2 linked regions of the Homo sapiens genome follow. The protein of the gene in region 1 interacts with the protein of each later gene in a biochemical or structural test. Each region holds a gene or a part of one and is shown in the gene's direction. Other genes may lie near its edges.

Evidence for each region. The genes of interacting proteins can lie anywhere in the genome.
Region 2: the proteins of FBXL17 (region 1) and SPAST form a complex in vitro, tested with the Homo sapiens proteins (one study listed by BioGRID and IntAct).

Annotation. Positions count from the first base shown.
Region 1 is NC_000005.10:108,375,120-108,379,098, reverse strand, and holds part of FBXL17 (F-box/LRR-repeat protein 17), read left to right. Parts: intron 1-3,979. UniProt on the Homo sapiens protein: Substrate-recognition component of the SCF(FBXL17) E3 ubiquitin ligase complex, a key component of a quality control pathway required to ensure functional dimerization of BTB domain-containing proteins (dimerization quality control, DQC).
Region 2 is NC_000002.12:32,118,687-32,122,665, forward strand, and holds part of SPAST (spastin), read left to right. Parts: intron 1-3,979. UniProt on the Homo sapiens protein: ATP-dependent microtubule severing protein that specifically recognizes and cuts microtubules that are polyglutamylated.

The DNA of each region.
Region 1 (3,979 bases):
CCGCGTTGTTCTCTTTCATATTTTTTCCTGAGGATTGTTGAAAACTTTGTCTAAAGGACATATGGGAATTACCATGGGCTTGCCCTATTGTGTGTATTTGGACATGTTATGTAGATTTCCATTCCTTGTATTAGAAAATTCTAATAAAGATTCTCTGTCTGAGTCTGATGGTCCTAGTGGTATTCAGCACGAAGTGAGCTGTACTGTCTGGGATGAATTGAATTAGCGATTGTTCAGTGTCTGCCAACCCCAGTTTTTGGGTGCAGCGACTCTGGATTCGTAATCTTGTTCATTGCTCTGTCTCCTCCTTTAAGTGCAGTGTCTGGCATATAGTAGCGCTCAGTAAATACTTACGAACGAATGTATCATCAGGTGTTTAGAGTCTGTGCTGAGACTCAGGGTGAATACGCCACACCACGAAGAGATATTTCTAAGGAATGTCCATATTCTGACTGGAGTTGCTGTTGGAGCCACGGTAGAGCCATGTGGTGGTGAAAGGATTCTGGCTCTGCTGGTAAGGACTGGAGTTGTTTGACTTGGAGAAGGGAAGACTTATGGAGCTATGACAATTTTTCTTTTCTAATATTAGAAGGGTTGCGTAGAGAGGCACAAGTCTATCATCACTATTGGAAAACATTCTTAGAAATTATGCCCTGTTCTCCTGGTAGGGAGTCAATAGCTATTATAATTGTATTGCTTTTGCTTCATCTTTTATGCTAGGAAGTTACTATAGCTGTAAAAACAAAACAAAACAAAACAAAAAAACAAAAAACAAAAACGAGGCAGGTAGAATTTGGGAGAGAAATGTGAGGATGTTTAAGAATTTAAAGGATGTTTTTTGGGAAAGCTACCATACTTGCCCATTTTTTTTTTTTTATGGCAGAGGAGAGAAACTAAACTATATGTTGCATCATAGGCTAATTTTTGGCTCAATATCAACAAGGATGTTTCTCTTTTATATAGGTTAATATTACCTGCTTTAAAGCAGTCAAAAATGCATTTTAATATAATAGTTTCTTTAACAAGTTGTTTGCCTTTGGCAAAATATCCTATTTTATGCTTATTACCCACATCTTAAATTTCTTCACTTGGATAAACAAATCTGGATTTAGTCAATGACTTGTGGTTTATAACAGCCATATCACTTTTATATAAAAGATAATAGCTAAAGTCAGGCAGGTTTCAAACAAGATGCTACTTGGTTGCAGTGACCATGCCCTACATGTTGATTGTTAACTGACAAATTAGCCCTTTAAGACCACATAGTCCTTTAACCTTAAAAAATGATCTAGGCCATCTAAGTTTTTATTTTCTCATTTATAAAATGAGGAGGACAAGCATAAAAATATCCGCAAGAAATGTACTTTCACCTGTGGCTGCATGAAGAGTTTGGTGAATCCTTTCCACACACAAGTATAAAAATGGCAGAATTGCCCAAAACTATTTGAACTCTGGAAATCAACCAAAAGCAAAGAAAATCATTGAGAAACATTTATTCTTAGGAAAACTGTTAGATCTTCAGGTAAGAATAGTGCAAGTCTACAGCATTCTCGCGTGGGCTTCTACTGTGACCTCCTGTCCCAGCACTTTTGGCAAGAATTGTAGTTTGGAAAACCAGCAGCTTCGCTGTCAGACAGCTGATTCAATTTGGGGCAATGAGTAAAAACCTTTGTCGATAAAATGTACTGAACTTGGTAGGGGAAAACAAGGAAAAACCATGTATTTGCTAGTTTAAGGTTGTAGTGCCAGTTGGGGTGAGTGGAAGAGTAGCTATAAATTAAAAGGCAGACCCTGGAAATGAGAGAACCATAAAGGGATAACCTCTTCACATATCCTGGCATAACGTGAAACTATGCACATGTGTAGGGGAGACCTGAGGTTGTCTAACTGAGAGCAAGGGCCAAGGCAGATGAGAATTCTTTAAGCTTTGAATGTGCCCTTCTTAACCCAGATACAGATTAAAGAGCAGGCTCAAGCTGTTTGAGCATATCTTTGGCATGTACATAGCTGAAAACTAAGATATTCAGACACAGAATGACTTCTCTAGAAAGCCAGGCTAAAACATATATATGTGAATTAAAATCTGAACAGATGTAGTCACACTGCCCAGGACACAGATTCCACAGTTTAGGGCCAGACATGTTAAAAGGCTCAGAAATATAAAATTCTACACTGGTGGCCAGGTGCGGTGGCTCACGCCTGTAATCCCAGCTTGAACCCGTGGGTGGAGGTTGCAGTGAGCCGAGATCACACCGCTGCACTCCAGCCTGGCAACAGAGTGAGACTCTGTCTCAAAAAAAAAAAAAAAAAAAGAATATACACTGGCTATGTTATCCAAAATGTCCAGTTTTTAACAACAAATTTTAAGACACGTAAAGAGACAGAAAAATGTGACCCATGCTGAGGGAAAAAGAAAGCAGTTAATAGAAACTGACTGTGAGTGAGCCTAGATATTAGACTTAGCAAAGACTTCAAACTGCTATTATAAACATGGTAAAAGAAAGGAAACATTATTTAAATAATTACAGGAGAATATGATGACATTGACCCAACAAATTGGAAATCTCAATAAAGAAATGAGAGCTGTAAAAAAAGTTTTATTCTTTTTGATGCTATTATAAATGGAAGTGCTTTCTTAATTTCATCTTCAGATGATTCATTGCTAGTATATAAAAATATTTGCTTATTAGCTCTAAAATTAATTTTTGTGTTTATTCTCTGGGATTTTCTCTATATAAGACCATGACATCTGTGAATAGAGGATGTTTTAATTCCAGCTCCCCAATCTGGATGCCTTTTGTTTATATTCCATGTCTAATTGCCCTAGCCAGAATCTCCAGTACAATGTTGCATAGAAGTCATGATGCAGAAATCCTTGTTTTGTTTCTGATTTTGGGGAAAAACTTTTAGACTTTTACCATTAAGTATAATGATAACTAGGGGTTATTGGTAGATGCTCTTTCTCAGGTTGAGGAAGTGTTCTTTTATTCCTATATTTCTGAATGTTTTAATCAAGAAAGGGTATTAGATTTTGTCCAGTGCTTTTTCCTGAATCAGTTGAGATGATCATGTGTTTTGTTTTTGCTTTTTACCTTTATTCTATTAATATGGTGTGTTACATGGGTTTTTTTCATATGTTGAACCATCCTTGCATTCCTGGGATAAATCCTACTTGGTCATGGTGTATAACCCTTCTACTATACTGTGGATTTAGTTTCCTTATATTTTATTGAAGATTTTCACATCGGTATTCATAAGGGACATTGGTCTGTAGTTTTTTGAGATTTCTTTGCCTGGCTTTGGTATCAGGATATGCTGGCCTTATAGCATGAGTTGGGAAGTAGTATCCCATCCTCTCATTTTTGGAAGAATTTAAGATAGATTGGTGTTCATTCTTATTGAAGCATATTACTGGTGAGGCCATCTGGTCCTTGTCTTTTCTTTGTTGTAAGTTTTTTGTTTTTTATTACATATTCCATCTTTTTACGTGCTGTACATCTACTCAGATTTTCTATTTCCTTTGAGTCAGTTTTTATAGTTTATATTCTAGGAATTTGTCATCTATTTCATCAATTTGGTAGCATACAATTATAGTATTCTCTTATAATTGTGTACTTTTTGTAAGGTTGATATTAATGTTCCCATTTTTATACATGATTTTAAAATTTGAGTCTTCTCTCTTTATTCTTAGTCTAGCCAATTTTGTGTGTGTGTGTGTGTGTGTGTGTGTGCAGGGTCTCTGTCACCCAGGCTTGAGTGCAGTGGTGTGATCATAGCTTATAGCTATGTAAATGGAAGTGCAGCCTTAAACTCCTGGGCTCAAGTGACTTTCCCTCTTGTCAGCCTCCTGAGTAGCTGGGTGCACAGGCATGCTGGCGCATGCCTGGTTAATTTCTTAAATAATTTTTGTAGAGACAGGGTCTTGCTATGTTTTCCAGGCTGGTCTCAAACTCCTGGCTTCAAGCAGTCCTCCCACTTT
Region 2 (3,979 bases), on another chromosome or scaffold:
TTTAGTTAAGTGGTAGACCTAGGAAATACCTTTCTAAGATTAGAGCTGCCTGGTTAGTGCTATAGCTGCCACCTAATTCTTACATTTATTTATTAAGGGACATGCTTTTTACGGTAGAAAAATATATCTAAAATTGTGAAGGTAATACCAAGGAAATATTTAGGCTATGCAAGAAAAGTCATTCAGCTTTTGCTTTACCCAGGCCTATAGAGAACATATCTAAAATAATAAGTAACATGTGAATTTGAATTTAGGCATATTTTCATGGTAGTGACATAATGTGCAATTAAGAAGCTATAATAATGTAAAAATGCCAGTTGCAAGTTATTTCAAATAAAGTTGAATAACCTGACCTCAGGAGGGGCAGAAACCTTAGTAAACTTAGCAAACTGAGACCTAAGGAAGAGCAAGATCTGTGGTAGAGCCAGGTCTAAAGGTTTATATCCTGGTACAAACTTGTCTATACATCACCACACCTGCCAAATGGAACTTTTTTTCCTTGTAGTTCAGATTTCCAAGAAAGGGAATATTATTGTCCTAGCTCAGCGTTTCACAATAGACTCACAAAATGAATCTTGTTAAGCCTATGAATGGGTAAGACTTATCCCATAACACGCCTCTATTGTGTAAAAAAATCAGCTTTATTCCTAATTCCCTGTAGTAGGAAGCTTGCATAGACCACAATAGAGACATTGTTAGATTATATCAAGAAGGTGAGTGGCAGGCATTCTTGAGTATACTGGAATTTTTATTTCATTGTAGAAACACAGAATCATAATTAGTCATCTAAAACTGGTTTTAAGGAGATAATACTAAAGATACTCACTTGAGGTAGATTGTTCTCAGAATTACTTAAAATAAGTGCTTTAAATCTTGCTCATTCATGAAGCCATAGCCCTGGAAGGAGATATTGAAAAACTTCTCCATCTTCCTTCAATCCCATAGGACCATGTTTTTAATTGTAGTTTAACATTAAACATAATTTTTGAAAGTAGCCAATATTAATCTTTGACAAAAAACTCAAACTAAATAGCAGAAAATAGAACATGCCCTCTCCTCTCGCCCAAAAGTAAGACTACATTTTAAAGTATATCACAGTGATCTGTCTAAATATTTTTCTCAAATATTTTACTAAGAAAGCGTATATTCTTCTGTCCTTATTTCATAGATCTCTTCTGTATCCTGTGCAGCTTGTCTATCATTTCGAGCTTTTATATTTCTTATTTTGTTCTCTTGCTGCTTAAATGTGATTCTTTGAGATTTATAGAAGAATGTGATTGTTCTCCAGTTTTAAAAAGCTCTTCTCTATCTACTAAAATTTCCATGAATTTCTTTCTTTCTTTTTTTTTTTTTGATTGAGACAGTCTCGCTGTGTTCTCCAGCGTGGCCTTAGGCTTAAGTGATCCTCCTGTCTCAGCCTCCCAAGTAGCTGAGATTACAGAAATTTCCATGAATTTCCAAATATGATGTTATCTTTCATATAAGCTTAAACATAAGCCTTTCTTCTTTCAAAAATGTTAGAACTTACCTCTTTAAATAATCTTATAAAGCCATTTCTTAATTTTTGTTACCTTTTCGAATCTATTAACTTGCATATCATAGTAAATGAACCCTTAGCTCCATCATACCACACACCTTCTACTCCTGTCCTCCCACTTTTTCTCACCCAGGCTGGAGTACAGTGAATATTTAGTGCTTTTAAATATTATTCATTACCAAGCCAAGTAGCGTACTATTTTTTCCTTGTACAGCCTTTTTTTCCCCTAAATAATTGTGTTATTTTTTCATTTGCTTCATTTTCATCTTATCGATTGATAATTCTTCTGTTCCATTTCAGTCTAATTTCCACATGGCCAAACCAATCTAAAAACCTGTTAACTCAGGTCTTTTTTTTTTTTTTTTTTCCCAGAATACCTTTTCCTGGAACCACCTTCTTCTTTTCATTCGAGACCAAATGCTTTCCATGCCTGTGTCAAAGTGGTTGTTCTCTAATCTGTCTTCACTACCATCATAATTTCCTTTTCCTTTTTTCCTTTCTTTATTATGTATCTCCTGTCTTTTAAATTCCATATTTTCCACTTTCATGATTTATTTTCTCATTTTGATGGCTACATCTTTCAGTAACTGAGAAAAGGTTGTGTGAGGGAATATTTTGAGATGCTGTAGTTTTGAAAATATCTTTATTCTGCTGTCTTCTCATTAATAATTTGACTGGATGTCAAGATTTAAGTTGGAAACTATTTTCCATGAGTATTTTGAAGGCATTATCTATTGTCTTCTAGCTTCCAGTGCTGCTTTGTATTAGAGACAGAAGATCAGGAATCAGGATAGCATTGGACTTCTTATTTCTATTTCCCAAAGCTTTTTGGATCTTCTCTTTATTCTTATCTTCTGATATTTTATAATGATATGCTTGATGCATTTACTTTTTCTTTTCTTCTTCCCTCTTGTACATTTCTTTCTTTTTTTAGGTGGGGGCAGGGGGGAAGGAGTCTCACTCTTCTCACCCAGGCTAGAGTGCAGTGGTGCAACCTCAGCTCACTGCAACCTCCACCTCTGGGGTTCAAGCGATTCTCCTGCCTCAGCCTCCCGAGTAGCTGGGATTACAGGCATCTGCCACCACGCCCAGCTAATTTTTGTATTTTTAGTAGAGACGGGGTTTCAGGCTGGTCTTGAACTCCTGACCTCAGGTGATCCGCCCTCCTCAGCCTCCCAAAGTGCTGGGATTAGAGGCATGAGCCACTGCGCCCAGCCCCTCTTGGACCTTTCTAGATATTCATCCTTCAATTCTGAGAAAGGTTCTATAATTCTTTAATTTAAAAAAAGTTTTTTTGTTTCATCTTTCTCACTTTTTTTTTTTTTTTTTTTTTTTAAGACACAGTCTTGCTCTGTCACCCAGGCTGGAGTGCAGTGGTGCGATCTCAGCTCACTGCGCCCTTCGCCTCCTGGGTTCGAGTGATTCTCCTGCCTCAGCCTCCCAAGCAGCTGGGATTACAGGTGCCCACCACCACCATGCCCGGCTAATTGTTGTATTTTTAGTAGAGACGGAGTTTCACCATGTTGGCCAGGCTGGTTTCAAACTCCTGACCTCAGGTGATCCACCTGCTTTGGCCTCCCAGAGTGCTGGGATTACAGGCATGAGCCACCGTGCCCAGCCCTATTCTGATTTCATAGATGCAGTGTCTTTTATGTCTCTGAGAGGTTTTGTCAAGTTTTCTTTTGTTTACTTTATTATCTGTTTCTTCAAGATTCCTCCTCTTTTCTTTTTGCCTTAAGCTTTTTCATATTGGAAGCTTCTCTCAAATGTCTGGTTATTCTGGTTGTCCACTTATATTACGTGGAACAATAAAAAAGTTGATTAGGACTCTGTGCTGTAAGTAAGTAAATTGTTGATAGTGAGAGCCCATTAATCACAGGATGATCAAGCAGCAAGCCTACTGTTTATTTGGGTTTCTCCAAATGGCTATAGCTGTCAGTCTTTTTTTTCTGGGGTTATTTGGCTTCTCTAGAAAAGAATTTTCTAGTCTCTTGTTTGGAGAATACAAGCTTGACTATTGGTGTTCCAGAAAATGGGTGGGAGGAGACGACTTTGTTTTCTGTTAGGTTGAGCCATGTGAAATTACTAGGTTTTGTTTTGTTTTCTGTTTTGTTTTGAGACAGAGTCTCACTCTGTTGCCCAGGCTGGAGTGCCTTAGCATGATCTTGGCTCACTGCAACCTCTGCCTCCCAGGTTCAAGCAATTCTCATGCCTCAGCCTCCCAAGTAGCTGGGATTATAGGCATGCACCACCACGCCTGGCTAATTTTTGTATTTTTAGTAGAGACGGGGTTTTGCCATGTTGACCAGTCTAGTCTCGAACTCCTGACCTCAGGTGATCCACCTGCCTTGGCCTCCCAAAGTGCTGGGATTACAGGTATGAGCCACCACACCTGGGCTGAAATTACTGTTTTTATAGGTCAAAAACAGTTGAGGGATAGGC